Linked DNA regions of Homo sapiens. The protein of the gene in region 1 interacts with the protein of each later gene in a biochemical or structural test. Each region holds a gene or a part of one and is shown in the gene's direction. Other genes may lie near its edges. The genes, in order: FBXO7, TEX29, IRF3, CILK1, NFIA, MBNL1 and PDE12.

Region 1 (4,003 bases):
TAAACAATATAATTTTTAAAGGACTTCATCTTTTGTTAACCTCTCAAAAAAGTAATGAAATTAGCATTGCTGAGTGTAAATGTTTTTAAAAATGTTTTATAATGTTTTGTTATTGTTCCTCACCACTGTGTGATGAAAAACATTTTATTCTTCTAATGTCAAATAATCTGTGATGCAGAAAGAATGGGAGTTTGTTGCTTCCGGGCTTATTTGAATTCTGAGCTTGTTTAACGTGGGCTTTTGGGTTTGCGCTATGTTCCACTAAAAGGCATCATAACTGATGATCAGTAGAAGGGTGAATTTAGCTTGTCATCATCAGTAAGAGAGATGAATTTATACTCAGTCATATACATAATACTCCTCTAACTTTTTGTGATTATGAATATATGGATCTGGTTTTTCGGAACCATTATAAGTAAACTGTCCTGTAAGGATATTGAATAGACATCCTTGATTTCACGCTCATCTCTTGATCTTCCCAACTAGTGTTTGGTGGTTGCATTTATTTCACAAGTACTTTATTTGCCAGTGTTGAAGATATGGTTTGAACTGTTCAGACAAGATCGCTGATCTTATGAAACTTAAGTTGTAGTGGCAGAGGTAGGGTAGACAGATCATAGACAAGTAAATACGATGTTTTCAAGTAGAACATAACAGAATAGAGAGCGCTGGAGTCTGAATGAAAGGCATCTCTGAAGAGGTGACATTTGGGCTGAGACTGGAATGATGAAGAGGAGTCAGTCATTTGAAGATCTGGAAGAACAAACGGAGAGGCCCGAAGGCTGCAATGAAGTTGATCTGCTTTTTGGAACGGATGGAAAGCTCATGTGAATAGAGAACAGTGAGAGAGGATGGATGGCACAGGATGCAGTAGGAGAAATGGGAAGAGGTCAGACGTTGAGCTTTGGAAGTTAGGTTAAGGATTCCAAATAGAAGCTATTGGAAGATTTTAAGTGAAGGAATGATGTGATCTAATTTGTATTTTAAAGGTATTTCACTGAATCTTAGTTGCTGTCACTTGTAAGACATATTGTTTTATGTAACAGCAGGGGAAAATGCTGTCAATTGATATGTCATTGATTTTAGGAAGTATCTTAATTTCAAAGATGTCAAAAAAAATTTGTGCATCTTAGAATTGAGGAAAGCATGGATTAGTGATAGAGGATTACTGTATCCCGTCCCCCAGGTGGAGAGTTTTAGCCATTAGAAATCTATAGATTAGGCATTCATTGATAAATACTTTTGATAATTTTCTCAAAACTATAAGCTTGATAGGGTAATGCGTGCCTATAGTCCTAGCTCCTCTGGAGGCTGAGGTGAGAGGATTGCTTGAGCCCAGGAATTTGAGGCTGCCATGAGCTGTGATTGTGCCACTTCACTCCAGCCTGGGCAACAGAGTGAGACTCTGTCTCTAAAAACAAACGAAAACAAAAACAAAAATGTAGCTGGACATGGTGGCTTATACCTGTAATCCCAGCAACCCAGGAGGCTGAGGCAGGAGGATTGCTTGAGGCCAGGAGCTTGAGACCAGCCTGGACAACATAGTGAGACCTTGTCTCTTCATCACTTAGTTCTTCTAGGGTCATACTGTGTACTTATGTATGCTTCAGATGTGCTATTGAAGGTATTAGAAGTAGGTAGTTCTTACTATGCTTATCTGTCTTTCTTGGCAGTTCTAATACCCGATTTACAATTACATTGAACTACAAGGATCCCCTCACTGGAGATGAAGAGACCTTGGCTTCATATGGGATTGTTTCTGGGGACTTGATATGTTTGATTCTTCAAGATGACATTCCAGCGCCTAATATACCTTCATCCACAGATTCAGAGCATTCTTCACTCCAGAATAATGAGCAACCCTCTTTGGCCACCAGCTCCAATCAGACTAGCATGCAGGATGAACAACCAAGTGATTCATTCCAAGGACAGGCAGCCCAGTCTGGTGTTTGGAATGACGACAGTATGGTGGGTATTAAACACCAATATATCAAATAGAGTAGGTGATAAGTCATATTGAACACCTCAGTTGAATTCTGTTCCAGTCAGGATAATTATCATCGATAGATTGCACATTTTATATATATTTTTTTCTTTTTTTTTTTTTTTGAGACAGAGTCTCACTCTGTCACCAGGCTGGAGTGCAGTGGCGCAATCTCTGCTCACTGCAACCTCTGCCTCCCAGTTCAAGCGATTCTCCTGCCTCAGCCTCCCGAGTAGCTGGGACTAGAGGTGCACACCACCACGCCCAGCTAATTTTTGTATTTTTAGTAGAGACGGGGTTTCAGCATGTTGGTCAGGATGGTCTCGATCTCTTGACCTCGTGATCTGCCCTCCTCGGCCTCCCAAAGTGCTGGGATTACAGGCATGAGCCACTGCGCCTGGCTGCAGATTATATTTTTATAGAATATATTTTTTTTAACTGCCAAATGCCTGTACCAATATGGGGCTGGCATCCCAAAGTACCTAGTGTCTGTCTGTTTTGTTCACATACTCTCCTTCAGATCAGTTATTCCTTGACTTCTATTATTGTTCCTAAGCTCATGATTCCTAGCCTTGCTTCTCTGATCTGGTCCGCTCATTAAGGCTATAGATGTGGTCTAATTATTTCCAGATGACTTGCAGGATATTTATACCTGGATTTTAAATTGTCATTGCAGACTTTAGATGTTGAACATAAATTTGGAAATATGTGTGCTCAGTTCCCTTCTTTGTCAGTGGCACTGCTGGTTTTCTGTGATTTTTGACTCCTTAAATCTAGCCCATTAATAAGCTTTGTCAGTTCTTCTTTTCCATTTCGGGTTCCATGGCTTTATTCCTCAGTCTGTTTTCTGGATTTGCCTTCTTCCTACATGGTTCTGATGCTATTGTTCCCTTGCTGTCTTTCATAACTCTATCTCATAAACTTGTGCTCATAATTTTTGAGCTGAAAAAGACAATATATCTCTAGTTCAACCCTGTCATTTTACAGAAGAGGAAAATGGTGTCTGTCCTCCTGTACCTAGTGCTCAAGGCTTTCTGAAAAGTTACTCCACTCAACTTTTTTAGGGCTAGTTTCTGTTCTTCCTTCCTTTAAACTGTCATCTCCAATCAGAACAGACCCATCATTTTCCCCCGCCCCCACCAACCAGCACATTCACCTGCTTGCATGCATGTGCACACACACAACCTGGTGACTACTTTTGTGACTTTGCTCTTGCTGTTCACCCAGACTGGAACCTGTTACCTTTCCTCCCTCTCTAGTCTATATTTCTACCCATCTTCCTAAGCCCTTGCCAACCATAGCCCAATAGTTTTCTTTAATTTCTTTGTATTGATTATCTGATTATCTTTATTGCCTTGTACATGCCTCCTCATTTTTCCCACCTTTTTTTTTTTTGGTGACAGGATCCCACTCCCTCACCCAGGCTGGAGTGCAGTGGCACAATCTCAGCTCACTGCAACCCTACCCTTCCGGGGTCAAGCGATTCTCCCACCTCAGCCTCCCGAGTAGTTGGGACCACAGACACCACCACGCCTGGCTAATTTTTGTATTTTTGGTAGAGATGGGGTTTCACCATGTTGCTCAGGCTGGTCTTGAACTCCTGACCTCAAGTGACCTGCCCACCTTGGCCACCCAAAGTAATGGGATTACAGATGTGAGCCACCGTGCCTGGCCTTTATCCGCCCTTTTAATTTTTTGAATGGTGCAAATGATCACCTTTATTTTTTTAATACCAATACACATGCCTTCTTGTTAATTGGTTTTTGTATGTATGCTTATCACCTCAATTTAATTGCTGGCCTTAAACATTTTTGAGTATAAGTATTCATGGTAACTTGTCATGGCATTAAGTATAGACATATTAAAAAATACTTTTTAATAGATTGGTAAATTGTGAAAATTATGTCCAGATATGTGGATTTTAATTTATTTTTAAAGTTATTGTTTTATCTGTGTGTTTCTGCCTCATAGAGGTAAACTGGGGAATGAGTAAGAATATTTCGCTGTATATTTAAATTA
Region 2 (4,003 bases), on another chromosome or scaffold:
AACCCGTGTTTAGTGAGCACCTGTGCTTGTTGATGAAAATCATAACCCGTGTTTAGTGAGCACCTGTGCTTGTTGATGAAAATAATAACCCGTGTTTAGTGAGCACCTGTGCTTGTTGATGAAAATCATAACCCGTGTTTAGTGAGCACCTGTGCTTGTTGATGAAAATCATAACCCCTGTTTAGTGAGCACCTGTGCTTGTTGATGAAAATCATAACCCGTGTTTAGTGAGCACCTGTGCTTGTTGATGAAAATCATAACCCGTGTTTAGTGAGCACCTGTGCTTGTTGATGAACATCATAACCCGTGTTTAGTGAGCACCTGTGCTTGTTGATGAACATCATAACCCGTGTTTAGTGAGCACCTGTGCTTGTTGATGAACATCATAACCCGTGTTTAGTGAGCACCTGTGCTTGTTGATGAACATCATAACCCATGTTTAGTGAGCACCTGTGCTTGTTGATGAAAATCATAACCCGTGTTTAGTGAGCACCTGTGCTTGTTGATGAAAATCATAACCCGTGTTTAGTGAGCACCTGTGCTTGTTGATGAAAATCATAACCCGTGTTTAGTGAGCACCTGTGCTTGTTGATGAAAATCATAACCCGTGTTTAGTGAGCACCTGTGCTTGTTGATGAAAATCATAACCCGTGTTTAGTGAGCACCTGTGCTTGTTGATGAAAATCATAACCCGTGTTTAGTGAGCACCTGTGCTTGTTGATGAAAATCATAACCCGTGTTTAGTGAGCACCTGTGCTTGTTGATGAAAATCATAACCCGTGTTTAGTGAGCACCTGTGCTTGTTGATGAAAATCATAACCCGTGTTTAGTGAGCACCTGTGCTTGTTGATGAACATCATAACCCGTGTTTAGTGAGCACCTAAGACTCTTAAGAGCTCTGCTCAGCCTTTTCAGCCCTTGAAGCCACTGACGATGTAAGTGAACTTACTGTCCCCGGACTGGGATGATTGACGCAGCATCGAGGGGGTCCCGAGGCTGATGGATGGGGCAGTGAGGCTCTAACTCAGGCTCCCAGTTGTCTCAGAGTCCCTGAACCCAAGGCTGCCTGCATCTCTTGGCCTGTGGCCTGCGTCCTCATTGCAGGGTGTCAGGGTTTGGAGGTGTCTCAGAGATGAGTCCACTCCCTCTCATTTTAATGGTGAGGAAATGCAGACCCGGGGGGCCAAGGAAGCAGGTGGCTATTCCCAGGGCAGGGCTGGAATCCAGCATCTCACTCCCCGGCCACCACCTTCACCATGAGCCCACTCTGTGTGCATACAAGCCCCTGAGATTATTTGAGTCTCTTTGTCCAGGAATGAGTAAAGCCATTTTCCTACCATGAGTGGTGCTGTATGCTGTCTTATGTGTGTTAATCATGAAGATGAGCCGGCAGTAGCCTGCAGTGCAACACACACCTTCCCCCTGCCCGGAGCTGTCTTTGGGAGTCTAGCTGCCTCATACAGCCATCTGTTTGGAGCCTGCACAAGAAACTAAAATGAGGCTGGATGTGGTGGCTCATACTTGTAATCTCCCAGCACTTTGGGAGGCTGAGGTGGGAGGATTACTTGAGCCCGGGAGTTGGAGGCTGCAGTGAGCCGTGTTTGTGCCATTGCACTCCAGCCTGGATGACAGATCAAAACTGTCTCAAAAAAAAAAAAAAAAAAAAGAGAGAGAGAAAGAAACGAAAATGAGAACTATTACATCAAAGCATTTACCTTAAAAAATAAGTATGCATGATCAGGAACCTGTGTTTTCAGAGGGATGTCCTGGTGGGTGGGAGGGAGGAACTGGAGAGTTTTCCATCTGTAACTTCCCTGACTGTGATAAAACCCTCTTCCCATCAGAGTCATTCAGGAGAGCAGGAAAGAAAAGGCCATCCCTGTGGATGTCGCGCTGCCACAGAAGTCCAGCGAAAAGGCGGAGTTGGCCTCATCCAGCAGCAAGTTAGGGCTGAAGCCTGCGAGTCCTGGGCCTCCAAGTGCTGGGCCCTCGATGAAGAGTGACGAGGATAAGGATGATGGTGAGAAGCTTCTGGAATGATCCTCAGCCTAAGGTCAAGGGCGTGGCTCTGTTCCCTCGGGAGACCTTCCCTGGGAAGGGGCTCAACATCTACACAGGCCCTTCAACCTCAGTGATCAGTGTTGCAGTTTGTTCAAAATTGTAATGTACCCAACATTGGAGGTTCAGGTTTGCAGGGTGGATGTGGCTGTCAGTGTGAGTTTCCTTCTGTGAGTCTTGTCCTCCCCCTTCCCATCCCCTTTTGCCTCCCTGTCATTTCACCCTCTGGCGGGGCCCTCATTGTTAGTGTGGGAAGCTCCTGGGGAGGGGGCAAGAGTCCTGCAGAAACTGCACATTTGATCAGGTGACTTCCTGTGGGGAGGCTGCAGGGCTGCCATGGGTACTCTCTGTGGCACCCTGGCCACGTGGTGGTCTTGGTTGTGCAGGGAGGCTGCCAGGCTGCTGTGGGTATTCTCTGTGGTGCCCTGGCCGCCTGGTGGTCGTGGATGTGCGGGGAGGCTGCAGGGCTGCTGTGGGTACTCTTTGTGGTGCCCTGGCCACGTGGTGGTCGTGGTTGGAGAGGTGGACGATCACTCTATGCCTGCTTCGGTTTCCAGGAAGGAAAGTTTCTCATATGTTGGTTTACCTGCTTTGGGGGCCCTTGGAGGTTGCCGGTTGCTTTTCCTAGATCAGCACCTTGCCAGGTTAGAGAAAGAAACATCTCAAATGGTAATCCTTATCTTCAGAGATGTTTGTACAGGATACAAACGGCCTGGCCTTACCCATTGTTACCAAATAGACTTGGCTTTACAGGGACCATCAGGAAAATCAGGAGGCAGGGTAAGAGGGCAACCCACACTTGATTTCAGATCTGGAATGCCTGGCCCCTAACTGAGGCTGCGTCTGTGCAAATGAGGCTTTCCTGCAGGACAGATGTTTGCCTGGTTAAGGGAGCCTCCTGTGTAGAGAGATGATGTGGGAGGAAGAGTGTTTTACTGTCCCCTAGAATGCAATGAGAAACATAGGAGGATACGGCCATCCCCAAAACTGGCTTTTGAATCAATCATTGCCAATCAGACACCATGTAGATGGGTTCAAAGATCCTGATGAAATCTTTTCGGGACTGCTGAATATTCCATTTGAAAAAACAATTCTTCTTTTCTAAAAATCTAGTAACAGGGACAATAACAGAAGCCGAAGAAACTGAGGACTGACTGAGACGCATGAAGAAGTGGAGATTGTCAGAATTATCCAAATGAAATGGTACAGCAGGTGCACTGTTAACAGTGTGATGGAATGACCACCCAAAGAGAAAAAAATAAAGGTATTTTGAAAATTGCTTCTCGTCCGATGTTGCTTATTCATTGCTATATTTTTATCTTAGGAGAGAGAAAGCCTGTGGGGTAGGAGAGTGGGAACCTGAACTTTCAGTTTTTAATGGCACTGCTTGTCACTAATATTAACACTATGGGGGCTCACAGCATGGGCTCAAGGTGGTGTCCTCGAGGTCTTCTTTTCAGAAGGCAGGCTGCACTTTCACCAAGAGTGGGCTGCCACACAGACACAGGCGGTTCAAGACTCTGGCATTTGGCTTTGCTAGGACTCAGCCGTGCTGCGAGGGAGGAGCAGCGTCTGGATCTGGATCTGAGAGGCCCCAAAGCATAGGCCGTAGCTGCCTGAGAGCCCCTCATGCAAGGCAGTGCGCTCAGTCCCAGAGTGGCCGACAGATGCTCACAGGCACGCGCAGGCCGGCCCAGGGCAGCCCACGGATCTTGGAGGCTCCGTTTTCTCACCTCAAAAATATGCATTCTACCCAGGAACTGTGGCCCTTATGTCCATGCATTGCAGCTTTAAGAAAGGATAATAAACAATCCAGATAGACCAGACGCATCCTGCTCCAAGGATTATTTAGATGAGAAATCAGTTTGCGTGAGCCCCTGGAAGCCCCTCGTCTGCTTTCTGGCTGGTAAACCTTGTCAGCTGCTCATGGGCTTGGCCCAGCGTC
Region 3 (4,289 bases), on another chromosome or scaffold:
CATGGATTTCGATTCGCAGGGGGCTGTCAGCCTCTTGGGAACTGAAAAACTCCCTCACCTTGATCCTGCTGAGGCCCAAGCTGGGGGAGCATCCCCTCTGAAATTCTACCCAGCCTGCTTTGCCCAGGTCTTACCTGCATAGAGCCAGATCCTTGGGTTGGAATGGTAGCACCTGGCGTTCATTAGTGTTTGTTTGGCTGTTGATGCCATGGCTGGCTCTGTCCCCAGGCTGGAAGCCCCTTGAAGGCAGAGCTCAAGCCTGACCTCCCTGCGTTGCTGAGAACAGACCTGGTCCATATGAAGTCTCCAGAAAAGGATATGGAAATGCCTGATTCTCTTTTTTTGTTTCCCTCCAGGAAGACATTCTGGATGAGTTACTGGGTAACATGGTGTTGGCCCCACTCCCAGATCCGGGACCCCCAAGCCTGGCTGTAGCCCCTGAGCCCTGCCCTCAGCCCCTGCGGAGCCCCAGCTTGGACAATCCCACTCCCTTCCCAAACCTGGGGCCCTCTGAGAACCCACTGAAGCGGCTGTTGGTGCCGGGGGAAGGTGAGTGTCAGCTGCAGGCTGGGAGGGCTGAGGTCTGGGCGGCAGCCCCTGATTCTCAACCCCTCTCCCCTTCATGCCGCTGCTGCCGCTGCTCAGAGTGGGAGTTCGAGGTGACAGCCTTCTACCGGGGCCGCCAAGTCTTCCAGCAGACCATCTCCTGCCCGGAGGGCCTGCGGCTGGTGGGGTCCGAAGTGGGAGACAGGACGCTGCCTGGATGGCCAGTCACACTGCCAGACCCTGGCATGTCCCTGACAGACAGGGGAGTGATGAGCTACGTGAGGCATGTGCTGAGCTGCCTGGGTGGGGGACTGGCTCTCTGGCGGGCCGGGCAGTGGCTCTGGGCCCAGCGGCTGGGGCACTGCCACACATACTGGGCAGTGAGCGAGGAGCTGCTCCCCAACAGCGGGCATGGGCCTGATGGCGAGGTCCCCAAGGACAAGGAAGGAGGCGTGTTTGACCTGGGGCCCTTCATTGTAGGTGAGTGAGACAGGGGCTTCGACCTGGCCAGTACAAAGCAGCCTGCACAGTGGTTAACAACTCAGGATTGGCCGGGCACGGTGGCTCACGCCTGTAGTCCCAGCACTTTGGGAGGCTGAGGTGGGCAGATGACAAGTTCAGGAGTTCGAGACCAGCCTGGTCAACATAGTGAAACCCCATCTCTACTAAAGATACAAAAAAATAGTCGGGCGTGGTGGCACGTGCCTGTAATCCCAGCTACTCGGGAGGCTGAGGCAGGAGAATTGCTTGAACCCAGGAGGCGGAGATTGCAGTGAGCTGAGATCGCACCACTGCACTCTAGCCTGGTGACAGAGTAAGACTCCATCTCGAACAACAAAAAAAAAAGAACTCATGATTAGGACTGAATTCAGACGCTGGCTGCCCTTGGCCCGCTGTATAACCGAGGCAAAGGACTTTGCCCTGAGCCCGTGGAATCCAAGGATGGTCTCCTCTCTCTACCTGCCTGCCAGCGCTGGGGTGAGACACAGGCCCAGTACACAGAGCCTGCTCAGGGAATTAGCTGCCACTGTCATCATCATCGTAACTAATGATGGTGAACAGACCAATAGCAGGAAAGCTACATCCCTTAGGGTTTCGCTGTGCAGTGGCACTTTCTGCCATGATGGAAATGACAGTCACCTGCACTGTCCGGTGCAGCAGCCACTAGCCACAGGGGCCAAGCACTCAGGTGAGGCGAGTGCAACCAGGACGTGATTCGTTTTAATTGGTTACAATTTAAACTGAAATAACCTTACATGACTAATGGCTGCAATTGGACAATGCAGCCTCAGACAGGACTGAATGCCAACCAGCTTCTCCAGATTCACTGAGCATCCTTGGGAGCATGGGCCCCCTACTCTGGGCCTGTTATGAATGCTGAGGCTTGGGGGCTTGGGGGTGTGGCCTTCCAACAACCCCACCCTGATGGGAGGGAGGGAGGGAGGGAAGGAGGGGACTTTCCCCAAACAAGCAGTCCCCTGGTCGAGGCAGCAGAGGGCCTTAGGTCAGGGGAGGTGGTGGGGGTTATCATTCAAGTTTACGGGGAAGGGTGGGTAGAGGGTCCTCTTCTCATCCCTGACTAGGCTCCTGGGCCCCCAGATCTGATTACCTTCACGGAAGGAAGCGGACGCTCACCACGCTATGCCCTCTGGTTCTGTGTGGGGGAGTCATGGCCCCAGGACCAGCCGTGGACCAAGAGGCTCGTGATGGTCAAGGTGCCTGCAGACCTGAGTCCCTGGGGCTGAAAGGGGTGGCCTTACAGAGGGAAGAGGTTGCTCCCAGGAACTCCAACTCCCAGAGGGCCCTCTAAAAAACTGCAACTTCCAAGATCTCTGCAATAACCAGTTTTTCATCCCCGGGAGCTCCTTCCCATGGCCTCACCTGCAGAACCTGTTTTGAACTCTCTAAACCAGTGGCCCCCAAACTATTTGGCACCAGGGACCAGTCTCATGGAAGATAATATTTCCACGGACAGGGAGGTGTGGTTTCGGGATGAAACTGCTCCACTGCAGATCATCAGGCATTAGATTCTCTTAAGGAGCAGCCGATCCCTCACGTGCGCAGTTCGATAGAGTTTGTGCTCCTCTGAGAATCTAATGCTGCCGCTGATCTCACAGAAGGCAGAGCTCAGGCAGTAATATTCCCCCACCCGCTGCTCACATCCTGCTGTGCAACCTGGTCCCTAACAAGCCGTAGGGGGGTTGGGGACCCCTGCTCTAAACCATGTAGAAGCTGGTGGACTCAAGTTTTAGCTGCCATTGTGAGGCCATGGCTGTGGCTCCCAGGAGTCAAGATCACAGACTGCTCAGCCCTGACGTGTGTGTGTGTGTGTGTTTGTGTGTGTGTGTAAAACTACAACTCCCAGCAGCCCTAGGCCTATGGTTCAGTTACAGCAGGGGGTGTGTGTGTGTGTGTGTGTGTGTGTGTGTGTGTGTGTGTGTGTAAAACTACAACTCCCAGCAGCCCTAGGCCTATGGTTCATCCTAGGTTACAGCAGGGGCTGCAGGGAGTTGTAGTCCTCCAAGCCCTGACTCCTACCTTGGTGGACAGTGGCTGGGTGTTTTCCCTGACTCCTGTCCCCACTTCCCCTGCAGGTTGTGCCCACGTGCCTCAGGGCCTTGGTAGAAATGGCCCGGGTAGGGGGTGCCTCCTCCCTGGAGAATACTGTGGACCTGCACATTTCCAACAGCCACCCACTCTCCCTCACCTCCGACCAGTACAAGGCCTACCTGCAGGACTTGGTGGAGGGCATGGATTTCCAGGGCCCTGGGGAGAGCTGAGCCCTCGCTCCTCATGGTGTGCCTCCAACCCCCCTGTTCCCCACCACCTCAACCAATAAACTGGTTCCTGCTATGATCACTTGTGCGTGTCTGGTGTTGGGTGCCCTCTGACCCAATATGGTTGTTATTCCCGCTCAGGGTCTCAGTTTACCCATCTGTGCAGCTATATACAACTCAGGTGCTCAATGCATGAAGACCAAGCACTGCAGGGGGCAGCTGACACCTCCTCACTTCTGCCCAGGGACCTGGTGGGTGATGGCTGTCCCCGTGTTGTAGACCAAGACACAGGCTGGGAGAGGCGCAAAGGTCACAGAGTAGGAAACACAAAGACTAGCCAGAACCCAGGCCCCCTGCCTTGCCTATGAACAGTTTGGGCAAGTGGTCCTTCTCCTTCCAGGCCTCAGGCTCCCCTCCACGTGGGGCTGGAGGGGTCTTGGTAAAGGGGCTCTGCGGCCACCCTGGAGCCTGCAAAGCCTGCCTGCCTGGTGACCCTGGGCACTGTCACCTCTCCTGGTTGGGCCGCAGTTCTGGGTGATGAAACTGGCAGAAGCCAGCGCAGCCCTGACTCACCCTTCGGCCCTTGCTGCTCTGTGCCTCAGTTTCCCTCTCAGGACAGTTGATGAGATCACCCCAGCTTCACGGGGCTGCTGAAAAGAGAAGCCAACTCAATGGGGAACACAGATCCTGCTCTGGGAGCAATTCCAAGGCAGGCACATGGCACCCAGGAGCCGAGCTGGGAAGATGCTGATCAGGTGGGGTCCGGCCCCTGCCTCCCTGTGAGCAGCTCGCTCCCAGCCAGAGACTGTGCTAAGTGCTCCACCTGTGTCTTGTTCAATCATCACAACACCCACTACACAGATAAGAAAACTGAGGCCCAGGGGAGGCAGCTGCCCCAAGTCACAGTCTGGTCTCTGTCTCCCATCCTCAGCCTCCTGGGGGTCCCTCCCCAACCCTCTGGCAAAT
Region 4 (4,003 bases), on another chromosome or scaffold:
CTATAGTGCCTACCCATAACTGGCATATACATGATAAAGGTCTGCTTATCCCTTGACAGTAACTTAACAGAGTCCAATTCCTGAACACTCAGCCTGGAGGCCTAGAGAACCAGGGTAACCATGCAGTGAATCCTTAGTAAGTATTATCCTGCCCTTACTTAAAATGGCTTGAGCTTAGGTTATTCCTGGCTGCAGCTCTGCTTCTGGGATCTGTTGCTGTTTTTCCATCTGAACCTTGCCAGGAACACTACTGCTTAATTTTTTTTTTTTATACTGCTCCTCTTGCAGCAGTCTCCTCCATTTCATTTTGTAGGATCTTGCAGAGTTGGAGTGGTACCTAGCCGTTCTATTGATGTCTGCCCTTATAAAATGCATTTTTCTGCTTGTGGGATCTATGTGAGTGTGTGTATTTGCCTGGTGGTTCCTTGGGAGAATTCTGGATATAATGACCTCTCTGTGTATGTTGATCTGAAAGCCTGTGAATAGTATCTCATTTAACTGTTGTCTTTCACCTGTGGTCTTTGATGACTGTGGCTTTCTGAGAAGGGCCTATGTTTAGAGTATTAGAACTCTCCTATCTGTGAACCTCAGTGTTTATGGTTGATGTGGTTGAATCAGGGAGAATGCGCAAACAGAGGTGTGTGTGTGCCGGATGACTTATACACGTTTTGGGATTACAGTGTAATTGTGTCTTAGTTTGTGGTTGTGCTTACCTTTGAAATACAGTTTTAACTTCCTTATAAAAGCACATGTGTTCTAGAAAATTACCTAGTAAAAAGAATTTGGTGAAACAAATCATTTTCTGGGGCAAATTGCATTAAAATGCTAAGGAAATGTTGTGGCAGGAAGAAAATCAGAGATGCCTTTGATTGCAGCCAAAGAAGTAAAAGCAGCAGCTCAGGCCTACCTCAAGGTGGTAACCAAGGTTGATATGGGCATCTTCATTCAATCTGTCTGCTCCTAGTTAACTGCTGTCCAATATTAGGAAAAACTACTACTCAACAGGTTTTAGGGAAACACTCAACCCAAACAGAAGGCTTCTATTCCTGATTTTCTTCCAAGGAAACTGAACTATCTTTGCACATTAAGTACCTGACTCTCTGTGCTTTGAAAGTTGAAGTCTTCCTGGGTAGGAAGAGTGTCTTGTCGTGGGACTTACCTGAGCAGGCTGAAATCAAATCCAACATATGTTGACATGTGAAGTCATGTTTGAGTTTGAGGATAGCACATCTTCAAACATCTGCTCCCCCCTTTTTTTAAACTATATGGGCTCAGGATTAGCAAAATATTCATATGCTTTTTACCAAGGAGCACGTGGGGAACATTTGATACATCTTTAGTTGGCTATAAAACATGTATTATACTCACACATTTCAAAATATTCTACTCTGAAGATAGCAAGTATTCTGTTCTTCTTAGTTGGATCTCATCTGTAGAGTGAGAATGTCAAGTGATCATTAAGGTCCTTTACAGAAAAAAAAAATTCTTAACTCTATTGTCTGAAGTTTGTTCAACATTAGGCTTTGAACATAGTTCCTAATGAATTTAGCATTCAAATCTATGTTAATTAGCATTCAGTTATATTTTATCTTTAAATAAGCTCATCATGGCTGCTATAAAAGATAATGCCTCTGAACCAAAAGATAAAGTATTATAAGTGTGATGTCCAACTATATTTGACAATATCATGAAAGTAACTATCTGCGTGAACTTGTAGTTCCTAGCAGATGATTGTCATCCTAACTCACTTTTTTTGAAATGAAAGGGCCACAATAGTGCCTTGCTTTTCATTTGGTGCTTTTCCCACCATGTCAAGAACCCTTAGTAGCCACTTAATAAATGTATAACGATGGCCCAGAGCTTATGAGAACCACACGTTTTTTTAGGAGAGATCAGTGTGAGTTATTTTTTACCTTTCTATAGGTGAAGCATGACCTGTGATAAAGTATTGATAACATGTGACTGCTCTTTTGACTACCATAAAAGATAATGCCTGAGAACCGGAAAGGAAAGTACTATTGTATAATGCCCAAATACGTATTTGGCAATATCATGAAAGTTACTATCTGCATGAACTTGTGGTTCCCAAAAGATAGTTATTAATGGTTTTGCCCTCTTGGACATTGCCTTTGCTTTGAAAGAGAATTTACTAGAGAATGATTTAACTAAGACAAAGGGGAGTAAGAAAAATGTAAGATATACATGCCTTCATGTGATCTTAGCTGTTGAAAAGCAAGTTTTTTCCTAAATTAGTGTAAAAGTTTTTAGAAGGAGTCATAATTTTGGTACCCTAGTCCCAGTACAGTTGTCCAGTTTGCAAAGAAGTGGGGCGTGACGGGATGACAGTGAGGGTGGACGTGGTAGTATAGGAAAATCATCTATGGTCAGGATTGCCTTTTAAAGCTCCATAAGTTGTTCATTCATTAGTTAATTCATTGAACATGTCTTTATTGTGAGTCCGTACTTGTGCCAACTATGCCAGTTCTCTGGGAACTGAGTACTGGGAATACAGTTGTGAATATTGCAACGTTTCTGACCTCACAGAGCTTATATTCTAAGGTTAAACACAGCTTGTATGTAGCCCTGTAACCTAGGGGTAAGTGAGGGCTCTATGGAGAGTACTAAAGTGCTTCTGCTTATTTGGGGGATTTCCTCATCTTCAGGGCTTGACAAACTATGGCTTGTGTGCCAGTCCTTCCTGCTGCCTGTTTTTGTAAATAAATTTGTACTGGAACACAGCCATGCCCATGTATTTACATATTGTCTTTGACTGCTTTCATGCTACAATGGCAGAGTGGAGTTGTGACGGAGATGGAGAGCCTGCAAAGCCTATCCTGTTTACTGACCCTTCACAGAAAAAACGTGCTTATCCCTGCCCTATTTTATTTTTACATTAAGCCTTTACTTCCTTTAATTCATTTTGATTTTTTGTATACATGCTAGCAAAGCATCTTACACTGAGATCAGCTCCTTAGTCAAATGTGTTGTAATAGCATATAAATACTGATAACATGTGGCTGTCCTTGTAACTACCGTAAAAGATAATGCGTTAGAACCAGAAAGGTAAAGTATTATTGTGTAACGTCCAGCTACTTATTTGCCAGTATCATGAAAGTTACTATCTACATGAACTTGTGATATGCTCTTAGTCACTCCCCTATCTTCACTATCCCTTATCTTGCCCACCCCTGAAACACAGGCAAGCAGGACTATTGCCACCCTCGGCAGTTTTCATTAAGCTGGGGACTCTCGTTCTAGCTCATCTACAGTTTCACACATGGCAGGGTAAAGGTTTGTTTTTCTGGCTGTTTTTTTATTTTTTATTTTTTTTAACATTTCGCCTTTACTTCAGTTCTTTACAGTCCACCAAAGCCAACTATGTGTCCTAGTTTAAAAATCATCTGCAAGTGATTGAAGAACTTTTTTAAGGTTCAAGGCGTGAGCACCTTTTATATTGTAAGAGAAGCGACAGGGAGTTATGGAAGCTTCTCATGGGATTAAGGACCTAGTGCAGGACGAGTTCTTTTTTCAGAAGCTGGGATTGAAAGAGGAGAGGGATGGTAAAGGTATGAAGAAGTTTCTGGGGCACAGAAGAAGGCACATCATGTAACGGATTATCTTCTCTTGTTAACATCCAGTTGATGCAATAGCTGAATGCATCTTTAATTCACTCCTCTGTCAAGGTAAAGACAAAGCAAGATCCATGTAAAGAAGGTCCTTTTGGCTTTGTAACTGCTATTCCTTATGCAGAAAAAAAGCAGTAGTCCAAGAGGCAAAATGCTTAAAAGGTTTGCTTGCTAAAATGTACAGAGGCAGAAGAATTAGGTCCAGGAGAAAAACATAAACCCGGATATACTATTTCTAGTACCTTTTTAAAAGAAATTAACAGTATTCACTGACTTTTGTAAAGTTAGGACACATTCAAACCTAGAATACGAAGTCTAATTATAAACCTGTAAAGGTAAAATGGAACTCAGAATTACCATGAGAAGGGTCATCTAAT
Region 5 (4,003 bases), on another chromosome or scaffold:
TTTTTGATGAGGGGATGAGAGAAGCCTCGTGAAAACCCTTTTAATAAAGAGTATATTTTAACTGACAAATGATCTAGTTTAAAAGCATTTATTTTGGTATTGAGGCAATATTTTTAGTTGGTTTTCTGCTGGGAGTGTTTTTAACCTACTGAGGCCTCTTGAACCCCTTGCCAATTAAGAAGTTGGAGGTAGATTACTATCAAATTGCTGATCATTTAGGAAGGAAAAATAATCACATTAATACGCAGACTTAGTAGCTTTGTATTTAGGAATTCTTAGTGTTGTCTCAGATAGCTAAGGGAAACAAACCAGCTCTTTCAGTAATTGATGGAGAGGTTAATATTAAAAATAACCAACCTGTATATTGCATGAACACATTGAAAAATTGCTATTGATAATTGATGTAGTGAGTTGCTTTGATTGTAAAATCTTAAATTTTTTTTCTGTTTTTTCAAGGCATGTCTTACCTGTGCATGTTTCAGTGTTTAGAATAGCATGCAGGATAAAACTATTGAGGACTGGATAAAATAATGCATTTTTACTTTGTTCCTTTCGTCTTGTTTTAGACAAAAGGCTCATTGTGCTATGTGAACGCTCAGGTCTTGTGTAACTTGTTGACTTTATATATGTACATATCGGTCTTGCTAGATTACCTTCATGGCAGTTACTTGAGCCAGATGGAAGAAAGAGGGTTGTGGAATCCTACCAGTAGGTTGTTTTGGGGTTCAAATATTTAACGTTTTTTTTTCTTTTTTTTTTTTTTTTTTTACAAAGGAGAGATGTTACCTGTAAAAACACTGCACTTTTCTTCAAAACATTTTTAATTCTAAAAATGTTAGTGAGTTTTTAAAGAAGCCAGCTGATAGCCTGTTCTCTATTATTTTTCTCAATATATGTTTTAGAAAGAGAACTTTTGTTATCCATCTGCCCTTACATAAGAAACTGGAGAAATTAGCTTTGCAAGCATGTCACATCATCATTTGCATTCTGTTGGCAGGGGATAGATGAGTATTTTAGAGGATGTGAGCTGTAAGTGTTTCAAATATTTGGGTTTTCAAAAATGTATACTTAATTATAAGAATTGCCTTTTGCTTTAGCCAATTCTGGGTAGCAAGAATGAAAAGTCAGCACCTCTCAAGTGACCTCTAAGCAGGAATAAGTAGCCCTTTTTTAACCCACTCTTAACCCTGTTGTTGTTCATTTGTTTTGTTTACTGAAAAAGTAAAGTTAAAATTTTTAAAAAATGTGTCTGCATATGTTAAGCACAGCAAAACGCAAAAAAAGTATAGGTGTTACAGGTGCTTTCAAGAAGCACTCTTTAAAATCTTGTTTTTACCTTTTAGATATTTAGAAAAATATAACCTATAAATTATCCCGAATAGATGACCAACATCGAAACTTGAAAGTGCCAACAGGTGATGCAGATCATGATGTGTGCTTCCATATAAGATAACATCAAAATGAAATACCTGTGAAGTTTTTGTCGGTGTAAGCAGTGTCCATTCTAAGTTTTCGTCTTAAACATTTCTCTGTTATTTAAAGAAATGCAATCTTTTCGCTGTTCTCATTACGTGCCTTCTTTTTCGTCGTTGGTTTGTTACTGTGCTATTGCTCCCAATCCTTGAACTAACACAGTTGTTGGTTGTTGCAATGCCTGAAGGGGTTATGTTGGTAAAATGACATTTAGAAGGTTACTTAGGAGAGTTAGCATCCTTATTGCTTATGAAAGATTTATTGACAGCAGCATAGATCAGACTACTCTTCGGTTTGGTTTTCCTGATGTATCCCAGAATCCCTTGTTATGCCTGAATGCCAGCCAAATGTTTGGCCATTGGTTTTCACGGGACCGCAGTAATGGCTGCTTCTCTGTGCGCGCAACAGGAAGACTGTAAAAGAAAATATTAAGGGTCTTTTGTCTGAAAATATTTCAAATTTGATTTAAGAGATTCAGAGACCTGTTATTTGTGGAAGGGAAGCTGCCAATACAAATATGAGGTAGATCGGTCAACTTACATACAACTGATTTGACAAGCATCTGTTATAATACTGAAGATTTGTAAACACTAAACAATGTTTTTACCTCCTTAAAAGTTTTGAGAACTTGCCAGTATTGGCAGGAGGCAGAGACTCTGAAACGTGCTTCAAGATACATGCCAAAACCATTGTGGCCTTTTCACCTATAATGCGTTTTTTCTCGCTCTTTCTTTTAAATTGTTATATTTTTTTCCTTTCCAGAATGCCTTTTTTTCCCCCTAGATGGTCATAGAAATTAGATCTTCTTTTCCTTCTGAAATTTGTGTGTAATAATTCTTGCTTTATGTGTCCACCTTTCTTTGGTAGGAAGTTGAAATCTCAGAACATACGTGAGAATACTAGAAGCAAATGCAGAATCAATCTTTTTTTTTTTAAAGCGGAGGTGATTTATTCTAAGACTTATTGACATGCTAAAATATAATACATAAACTACATTCCAGTTTTTTCCCTCTAAATCCAGTGGCATTAGAACTGTGAATTTTGTGGCTGATAAGCAGTAACAAGTGTAATGAAATTGGAGTGATTTCATAAGCCTGAGAATTTCATCTTGTTAAAAGAACAAAACCATTTTATGCCCTTAATTTGGTCTCAATTTGAGTTGTCCTTCCCATGTATCATATGACAACTTGGGGATACTATGGTATTGTGGCAAATGGTTTTCTTTGTGGGTGTGTAACAGTAAAGCTAATTTATGACCAGTCTTTACCAGATGATCTGTATCAGAATCTACAATATACCCGGCACGTGGCAAGGTCACAATTTAAGTTGTTAAGGTCATAACCTTAGCCACCAGGCATTTGACCTTTTAGATAAAGTTAACCTTTGTTCATTAGTAGGCACTCAACCGAGAAGTTTCTGGAGAGTTGTTGTTTTTTTTTTTTTAACCACTTCTGTATAAACTTCTGGTAATGTAATCAGATTCTAGAAAGATTCTCAGTCAAATTAGTTAGATTTTGTGAAAGGTTATACTTTTTAAGGACTCATTTCTTGGATAGAGGCAGGTTGCTATTTTTAGGCCATAGAATGACAGTTTCACAATTTATATTTGATATTATTACCTGCCATGGGGTAGAATAAAAGCTTGGAGGCAGCTGTGTGGGGACATTTAAAATCTAAAATTAAACAAATTAATTTATGTTTAATTCAACTAAGGCCTTTGCTAATTTTCAAGTGACATTAGGCCTAAAAGCTAAATCACAGTGAGCCATCTTCACTTTTTGCAGATGAGGAATTTTCTAACATTAGAAGTATTTTTAGCAGTCTTAAAATTCAGTTTGAAAGATTAATAAGTGACCACAATTTGTCAGGTAATTGCTTTAATTGTTAATTAGCCAGTGACAAAGCAAGTTGCTGTTGTCCTAATGGCAGCAGTATGAGTACTTGTTAGTTTTAAGGTAGAAAGAGAACACTTTTGCACGGTAATCTTTTAGTGCAGTAGTTACTGATTGCTTCCATGCTGCTACCATTATTACCTTTACTTAATTTTGCTTGCATCAGGAATAGCAAAGATCCTTTCAATCACTGAAGGAGCTGTTTCAGTGTCTCGGAAGCCTGATACCTGTCCTATAAACCTACTCAACAGTATTACTGATTACCACATTACCTGTACCATATTGTTCACTTAATTATGCTGACATGAATGCTCATTTCAAATTATTTAGATTCTTGCTAGTTTTGTTCTGCTGTACCTCATATTATTCCATTTCAGCCAAAAGAGAGCTACTCCCATTCAGGTGCATTTTAGTTTTATTTTGGCTTCGTGATTGCCATTCCTTCATATAGTAATAGAGAAAGCCGTGATATGCAGATAGACCAGATGGTCATGTTGACAGATTGAGAATTCACTTCCTACTGCTTCAGAGCAGGTGTAAGATTAGGAGTGTCTGTGTAGGGGCGTGTGTGTGCTTCGTGTGCATGTGCGTGCACATCCAGGCTGCACAGAGTGCTGTTTGAGCAATGGGAATGATTT
Region 6 (4,003 bases), on another chromosome or scaffold:
ATCGGTAGGATTATTTTAATTTTGCATTTTTGTAGAGGATGTTTGGCTACTGCTTGTGTGACTTTTTTTACTATCTCCAGAAAATTGCCAAGAAACCTTAAGAGTTTTCACATAGAGGTTTATGTAGGTTGTTTTTTTATATCTGTAATAAACTTTAGAATGGCTCTTAAAAATGTAGTCACATCTTCATTTAAACAATTTAATACACTATGGCTCTGTCAATTATTAATCTATGTGATTAGAGTTTTGATATGGTATAGAGTATAGTAATTGCTATATTAAGAACAGTGGTTCACACCTGCAGTCCCAGCTACTTGAGAGACTTAGGTGGGAGGATCACTTGAGCAGGGAGGTTGAGGCTGCAGTGAACTGAGATTGCACCACTGCACTCCAGACTGAGTGACAGAGGGAGACCCTATCTCAAGTAGTAATAATAATAATAATAATAACATAAATGAAATAAGGTAATGGCTAATTTGGTGTATTGACAAGCTTGTTTCAAAGTTGTGTCTATTTTCCTGTCCTCTTGGGTTTGCACAGTCATTCATGGGAATGAATAAATGACAACGTGGAAGTGGATTTAATGGTTCTGTCTTTGGTCATTCCTATTCAGATTTTATTTTATGTTTTTATAAGAGATCAAGTGGTAGATTCTTAGTTCTGTTACCTATAGAAGCATGCTTGTGTTTTCTGGCCTGAATAGTAATGATGGAGTCTGCCTTTTAGGCTTCAAAGAATGCTCCCATTTGATCCTAACAGAAATACTATGAGGTAGCTAAAGTAGGTGTCCTTTTCTTGAATTTTTTTGGAAGGAGAAAAATTGATCAAATATGTACAATTATTGAATAACCAAATGTATTAGTCCATTTTCACGCTGCTGATAAAGACATACCCAAGACTGGGCAATTTACGAAAAGAAAGAGGTTTATTGGACTTACAGTTCCACATGGCTAGGGAGACCTCACAATCATGGCAGAAGGCGGAAAGCACGTTTTGCATGGTGGCAGACAAGAAAAAAGGTTGCACAGGGACATAACCCTTTTAAAACCATCAGATGTCATGAGACTTATTCCCTATCTTAAGAACAGCTCAGGAAAGATATGCCCCCATGATTCAATTACCTCCCACCGGGTCTGTCCCACAACATGTGGGAATTCAAGATGAGGTTTGGGTGGGGACACAGCCAAACCATATCACCAACTGAAACTAGAAATCACATCATCCGATATTTATCTAGGGATTTTAATTGTACAATAAATTGACTACAGTTACATTTACCTAATCACCAGAATTATGAGGATTACAAAGTAGATATTTTAATCCTTTTTAAATGAAAATAGAGATAATTTCTTTACATTAAATTATAAACTCATGATCAGCGATGCTGTGGACACTTTGATCAAAGTGATTGATCAAAGTGATTATCTAGGATTACTTTTTAAAGTAATACTTAGAAAAATTTAGCTTGTTAGTTCCAGCTTAATAGAAAGTGAAGTCCATGCTGCTTATTGGTGAACATGTAGCTATATGTCTTTGAATACGTTTCTTAATATTGGCCATTAACTATTAAATTGACTTCTCAAAATGTTAAAATGGACAAAGTCCCTGTTTCTTGTTATAATTAGCTTTCTGTTCCTGCTTTTGATTGTTATTCTCCAAGATGACTGAGTTAATTATACAAATATGGTGAACACAAAACATATTACCTCAAAGGGATATCTCCTTAAAGAATATGCAAATGACCCTCCACTTTTGAATAAATTCAAATATTGACATTAATCTCCTTAGAATCCCAGTGCTTTAACTTGAGAGCATTGCTGAGTTTAATACTACTTATAAAACTTACGTTATTTTGACCATTTTGAAATATAGTTTTTCATGTATTAAAAAATTAGAGATCAAATGACAGGATTATTCATATTATCCAGATTTGTATGGTGTGTTGTAAGCTATGCATTATTTTATTCAGTATTCATGACCTTTTAAATAGATGTTAATAGTGTTTTCATTGTGAAGATTCCTTAGCTAGTAAAGTGATAGGAACTGGAACTCACAATTTTTGACTCCAAACCCTATTGTCTGTCCGCTATATTATTGCTATTTAGTTAACAAAAGAAGGTTTATTTAGAATTAATTTACATTTTCTTGGGAAATTTTCCTGATTATGTTTTCTTTTGATTATTTAAAGTTTATAATTATTCCATAGATGTTTTTCTGGAAATAGAACTTAAATGTTTTCAGTGAATATCTTCATTGTCAAATCTTGCCTTAGTATTTGTAAAGTAAAAGGCTCATGTTGAATCACATTATATGTGTAGCTAAATAGATCTTATTGTTTTAATGCAGGTTTGAAAACCATTTATCAAACAATATTTTTTTTCTTTTGTGACAGAGTCTTGCTCTGTTGCCCAGGCTGGAGTGCAGTGGCACGATCTTGGCTCACTGCGACCTCCACTTCCCAGGTTCAAGCAATTCTCGTGCCTCAGCCTCCTGAGTAGCTAGGATTACAGGCGCCTGCCACCATGCCCAGCTAATTTTTGTATTTTTAGTGGAGATGAGGTTTCACCATGTTGGCCAGGCTGGTCTCGAACTCCTGTCCTCAAGTGATCCACCCACCTCAGCCTCCCAAAGTACTGGGATTACCAGCTTGAGCCACCGCGCCCAGTCAGAAAATATTTTTATGTGTTGACCCAGTACATACACATATACCAATAAATCTGTACATTTATCTGCCAAAAATAATGAAAAATGCCTATAGTCATGGATATATTCTTGGAATATTACTTGTAATATGGAAATACTGGAAATTATCTAGATATCCTCCAAAAGAGTTACCTGTATTATGTACACTATTTGATGAAATTTGATGCAGCCATCAAAAGTATTCACTCTGGAAATTATTTAGCAAAATGAGAAATGCTTATGCTGCATTGTTGAGCATAAAAGATCACCAAATAATAGCTATACTATAATTACAATTATTTTTAAAAATGTGTGCATACATACAGAAGACTGGATGAGAAGAGAAAAATGAACCACAGTGTTGTTAGAATTTTCAGATTTAATTTTATATTCTGTTTCAAATTCTCTGTATGATAAATGTTATAATTTCTTATCCTGTTTTTAATTATGAGATTAAATTTGTGAAATGTTGTCAGTTATAATTTACTAATGTAATAGTATGTCTAAGAGATTTATTTTGGGTATCAGCATAGTCTAAAGTGTCCTTGAGTTTATCAGAGAAACCAGATCAAACTCATATTGAGCAACCAAGGGATAGATCCCATTTTATTGATGATGTCTATTAGGGAAAATGTGTTTTAGAAGGTTTGGGAAGTTCATGTTCCCATAGGTACCCCACTATTCAGATGCATATCTAATGCTTGGTAAATTTCCAGTCCCACTGGCCTGTAACTCTCACCAGTACAAGTTTTCACAAGAGATTTTCTCTTCCTTATTTTTTCACAAGCAAGAATAATGTGAGAGTAGCTATTACAGTATGTTTCTGTCCTATTTCTTAGGAGAAACCGTAAGCTGTAAAAAAAAATAAAAATATGAAAGAGTCAAACATGCATATTATGCAAAAGCAGTTGACTAAGTTTTTTTTAACCTCAGAAAAGGTTGGTTTTATGACACATTCTGAGCTAATTCTTAGTTATTAAGTCTGCTTAAATATTTTTAGAATTCTTTCTAAATGTTCCACAGGAGAGTAAAGAACATGAAATTATAATAAACCAATCCTTAACCTGTAGAAACCCCCCCCCCCACACACACACACATGCAAATACATACACACAGAACCTAAATAAATTCAAGTCTTCTTTCTTGTTAATGCGGCAAAGAGTAACCTAAATTGGAAAAGTAGAGTATTAGTTCCCTGCTGCCAATTCATTTTGAGCATATTCAAGAAAGCAGGAATTACTGAGGGAGCAAATAGCAGCTGAGAGAGATCACTTATAGACCTTCTGCAAGTTTCCTGTTTGGTGATGCCTACATTGACATA
Region 7 (4,003 bases), on another chromosome or scaffold:
AAAGAGTATTTCAGAACATATTATTCTGTTAAAATGAACTCTTGCACAGTTGCCGCTACAGCAAATGTGTCTGCCAATAATCAAAATTCATGAGCAAACAATCGTTTCTGGCTGTAATGTATGTTCTTTTTGAAATTCTGTATGCTAAAATCAGTTGTTTCAAAATTTCAAGAATTCCACTGAGTAGTGATTTTTCTGAGTACTAAGCTATGATCTCATCAGAATGTGCTGGTTTCAGTCTGGAGATAGATTTCTGAGGAGCCTAATACAAGGGAGAGAATGTCCAAAGAACACTACTGTGGAAAGTTCTTACGATGGAAATTGACATCTTTTGTATCTCATTCTCCAGCCGTGAAATAAAGGCAGAGGTTCCCTGCAAACTAGTTTGGTTGGGATAAATCCAATATTTATATATAATGAAAAATAAAAGTTTGCATTATTAGTTTATCACAAGACCCATGTGACAACTCAGAAAATATTCTCAGCATAATTTTTTTAAGAGATAGAGTCTCACTGTTACCCAGGCTGGAGTGCAGTGGTGCAGTCATAACTTACTACAGCCTCAAACTGCGGGGCTCAAATGATCCTCCTGCCTCAGCGTCCCAAGTAGTTGAGATTACAAGCCCAACCTTCCATAACTGAAAACTAACTTTCTTTTTTTCTTTTTTTATTATTATACTTTAAGTTCTAGTGTACATGTGCCCAACGTGCAGATTTGTTACATAGGTATACATGTGCCATGTTGGTTTGCTGCACCCGTTAACTCGTCATTTACATTAGGTATTTCTCCTAATGCTATCCCTCCCCCAGCCCTGAAAATGAATTTTTTAAACACAAATAAAAAATATTTCAGTGTTTTGAGAATTTTAATAATTTGCTTAATATAGTACAGGAAGGCAACACTATCTAGAGGGCCAGGCATAGTGGCTCTTGACTGTAATCACAACATTTTGGGAGGCTGAGGCAGGAGGATCACTTGAGCTGAGGAGTTCAAGACCAGCCTTGGCAACATTGTGAGACCCTATCTCTGCAAAAAATAAAATTAACCAGGCATGGTGGTGCATGCCTGTAGTCCCAGCTGCTCAGGAGGCTGAGGCCAGAGGATCACTTGAGCCCATGAGGTCAAGCCTGCAGTGAGTTGTGATCAAGGTGCGCTGCACTCCAGCCTGGGTAATAGAGCAAGACCCTGTCTTCAAAAAACCACTCTAGATTTCATGTTGTAGGGGGTAGGGAGGACAATTTTTAACAGCTTTAACTGACATGGGTAATATATAAGTTCTGTGTTCTCACTTTATATGAAAGTACTTTTTTAAATGTTAAAAATACTAGAGCTGTATTAACTTCGTGATTTTATTTTTCTTCTTAGCACTAACTTCAAAATAACCATACAGTACTGCTTGTAATTTTTGTATTTTTAGTAGAGACAGGGTTTCACCATATTGGCCAGGCTGGTCTTGAACTCCTGAACTCAAGTGATCTGCCTGCCTCAGCCTCTGAAAGTGCTGGGATTACAGGCATGAGCCACGGTACCCGGCCTAAATTTTAATTTTATATATAAATGGCAAAATAATCTTAAATATAGTAAATCTGTTCACCTATCTGCTATGCTAGCAAATTCTGGGTTGTCAAAAATCCATGTTCATACTGTCAGTGTTAGATTTTTACTCATAATTTAAAATTTCCCCGCAAAATTTCACAGAAAACTGAATTATTCATCTCTATCTTCTGTCCAATTTATGTAATGAATGTATGTCAAAGCATTTATATAACACAGTCCATTTTGCCCAGTAATTCACTTTAATGATGTTATCATGAAGTATTGATGTACTTTTTTTTTAGTGTATTGAAGTATTCCTAGGTTGCATTTGTGCTAGTTTCATACCATTTGTGTTCCTTATATATTGAAGATGGTTCAGTAGGGGAAATGGATAGGCTTTATTTAGTTGGCTTTCTTATACTGGATAATATAAACACTTTTTTTTTCTTTTTTGAGACAGGGTCTGGCTTTGTCACCCAGGCTTGGAGGGCACTGGTGCCATCACGGCTTACTGCAACCTCCACCTCCTGGGCTTATGCAATCCTCCCACCACAGCCTCCCCAAATAGCTGGGACTACAGGTGCGCACCGCCACACCTGGCTAATTTTTGTATATTTTATAGGCAAAAAAAAAAAAAAAAATGGTTTCACCATGTTGCCCAGGCTGGTCTTGAAATTCTCAGTTCAAGCAGTCCACCCACCTCGGCCTCCCAAAGTGCTGATATTACAGACATGAGCCACCCCACCCAGTCAGCACACATTTTTTTTTTTTTTAAATAAGACAGGGTGTTGCTGTTGCCCAGGCTGGAGCGCAGTGGCATGATCATAGCTCACTGCAGCATCAAACTCCAGGGCTTAAGCGATCCTCCCACCTCAGCCTCCTGAGTAGCTGGGACTATAGGTGCATGCCACCATGCCTGGCTAATTTTTTAAATTGTTTGTAGAGATGGGGGTCTCTCTATGTTGCCCAGACTGGTCTTAAACTCCTGGGCTCAAATGACTCTCCCGCTTCAGCCTCCCAAAGTACTGGGATTATAGGTGTGAGCCAGCACACATAGCCCTTTTTTTAAAAAAATTAAAAACAAATTTTTTCTCCAGAAAAAAACATATTTATCAACTTTTAAAAACATTTTATGGGTACATAGTAGGTGTATATATTTATGTGGGACATATTTCTTTTGATAGAGTAAATTGAGTATTCATCACATCAAGCATTCATTTGTGTTACGAACATTCCAATTGTACTCTCTCAGTTATTCTAAAATGTGATATACACACTTTTAAAAGGATTTATTGCGCTGGGCGCGGTGGCTCACGCCTGTAATCCCAGCACTCTGGGAGGCTGAGGCCGGTGGATCATGAGGTCAGATCGAGACCATCCTGGCCAACATGGTGAAACCCTGTCTCTACTAAAAATACAAAAATTAGCTGGGCATGGTGGCGCGCGCCTGTAGTCTCAGCTGCTTGGGGAGGCTGAGGCAGGAGAATCACTTGAACCCGGGAGGCAGAGGTTGCAGTGAGCCGAGATCACGCCATTGCACTCCAGCCTGGCAACAAAGCGGGACTCTGTCTCAAAAATAAAATAAAATAAAATTTTAAAAAAAGGATTTATTGCATATAATTCTTATATCCCCTGTGGAATAGTTTGGAGAAATGGTACATCCAAAGATAAAATCAGTTAGAAATAAACAGTGGCCTTCCTCAGAAAAGCTGGGCTATAGTGTTTTGGGTATCTTAAACCAAGAAAGGGTATTTCTATCCCAGCTGTAGAGTTTTTAATAATTCTATTATAAATAATGGAATCAGGCCAGCACAGTGGCTCACGTCACATAATCCCACTCTCCTTAAGAGCTTTTTTTGTCACTGCATATCAACTCAGTTGACAAGGACTGGCCCCCAAAAGAAGCTGCATACTCACTTGGCAGTCACTCCCCATTCTCCCTAGCTCCTGGCAACAACTTAACCTGTCTCTGTGGATTTGCCTATTCTGGACATTTCATATAAATTGAATCATAATTTATGTAGTCTTTTGTGACTGGCTTCTTTTACTTAGGATGTTTTTAAGGTTCTTACTGTTGTAGGATGTATCAGGAGTTTGTTTTTATGATGAATGTTCCATCTTATGGACGTACCACATTTGTCCATTCATTAGTTGACAGACATTTGAATTGCTTCCACTTCCTGGCTTCTATGAATAATGCTGCCATAAACATTTGTGATAAGTTTTTGAGTGAATATGTGTTTTTGTTTCTCTTGGGCACATACAGGGAATGGAATTGTTGGGTGCTGTGATAACCTTTTGAGGAACTGCCAGACTTACGGAAAGCAGTTGCACTATTTTGCATTCCCACCAAGCAATATGAGGGTTCCAGTTTCCCTCCATCCTCATTAACACTTTATTATCTTTTTGATTATAGGCATCCTAGTGTCAAGTGGCATCTTATTGTGGTTTTGATTTGCATTTCCA

The links.
Region 2: of the proteins of FBXO7 (region 1) and TEX29, one has a biochemical effect on the other in vitro, tested with the Homo sapiens proteins (one large-scale study listed by BioGRID).
Region 3: of the proteins of FBXO7 (region 1) and IRF3, one has a biochemical effect on the other in vitro, tested with the Homo sapiens proteins (one large-scale study listed by BioGRID).
Region 4: of the proteins of FBXO7 (region 1) and CILK1, one has a biochemical effect on the other in vitro, tested with the Homo sapiens proteins (one large-scale study listed by BioGRID).
Region 5: of the proteins of FBXO7 (region 1) and NFIA, one has a biochemical effect on the other in vitro, tested with the Homo sapiens proteins (one large-scale study listed by BioGRID).
Region 6: of the proteins of FBXO7 (region 1) and MBNL1, one has a biochemical effect on the other in vitro, tested with the Homo sapiens proteins (one large-scale study listed by BioGRID).
Region 7: of the proteins of FBXO7 (region 1) and PDE12, one has a biochemical effect on the other in vitro, tested with the Homo sapiens proteins (one large-scale study listed by BioGRID).

The regions. Positions count from the first base shown.
Region 1 is NC_000022.11:32,477,308-32,481,310, forward strand, and holds part of FBXO7 (F-box only protein 7), read left to right. Parts: intron 1-1,673; coding exon 1,674-1,968; intron 1,969-4,003. UniProt on the Homo sapiens protein: Substrate recognition component of a SCF (SKP1-CUL1-F-box protein) E3 ubiquitin-protein ligase complex which mediates the ubiquitination and subsequent proteasomal degradation of target proteins and plays a role in several biological processes such as cell cycle, cell proliferation, or maintenance of chromosome stability.
Region 2 is NC_000013.11:111,340,912-111,344,914, forward strand, and holds the end of TEX29 (testis-expressed protein 29), read left to right. Parts: intron 1-1,844; coding exon 1,845-2,020; intron 2,021-3,171; coding exon 3,172-3,212; 3' UTR 3,213-3,337; downstream 3,338-4,003.
Region 3 is NC_000019.10:49,658,685-49,662,973, reverse strand, and holds the end of IRF3 (interferon regulatory factor 3), read left to right. Parts: intron 1-356; coding exon 357-549; intron 550-645; coding exon 646-1,026; exon of another isoform or gene 1,027-1,524; intron 1,525-2,129; coding exon of another isoform or gene 2,130-2,145; coding exon 2,146-2,261; intron 2,262-3,140; coding exon 3,141-3,326; coding exon of another isoform or gene 3,327-3,385; 3' UTR 3,386-3,402; downstream 3,403-4,289.
Region 4 is NC_000006.12:53,055,190-53,059,192, reverse strand, and holds part of CILK1 (serine/threonine-protein kinase ICK), read left to right. Parts: intron 1-4,003.
Region 5 is NC_000001.11:61,088,947-61,092,949, forward strand, and holds part of NFIA (nuclear factor 1 A-type), read left to right. Parts: intron 1-4,003.
Region 6 is NC_000003.12:152,439,426-152,443,428, forward strand, and holds part of MBNL1 (muscleblind-like protein 1), read left to right. Parts: intron 1-4,003. UniProt on the Homo sapiens protein: Mediates pre-mRNA alternative splicing regulation. Acts either as activator or repressor of splicing on specific pre-mRNA targets. Inhibits cardiac troponin-T (TNNT2) pre-mRNA exon inclusion but induces insulin receptor (IR) pre-mRNA exon inclusion in muscle.
Region 7 is NC_000003.12:57,562,693-57,566,695, forward strand, and holds part of PDE12 (2',5'-phosphodiesterase 12 isoform 1 precursor), read left to right. Parts: 3' UTR 1-4,003. UniProt on the Homo sapiens protein: Enzyme that cleaves 2',5'-phosphodiester bond linking adenosines of the 5'-triphosphorylated oligoadenylates, triphosphorylated oligoadenylates referred as 2-5A modulates the 2-5A system. Degrades triphosphorylated 2-5A to produce AMP and ATP.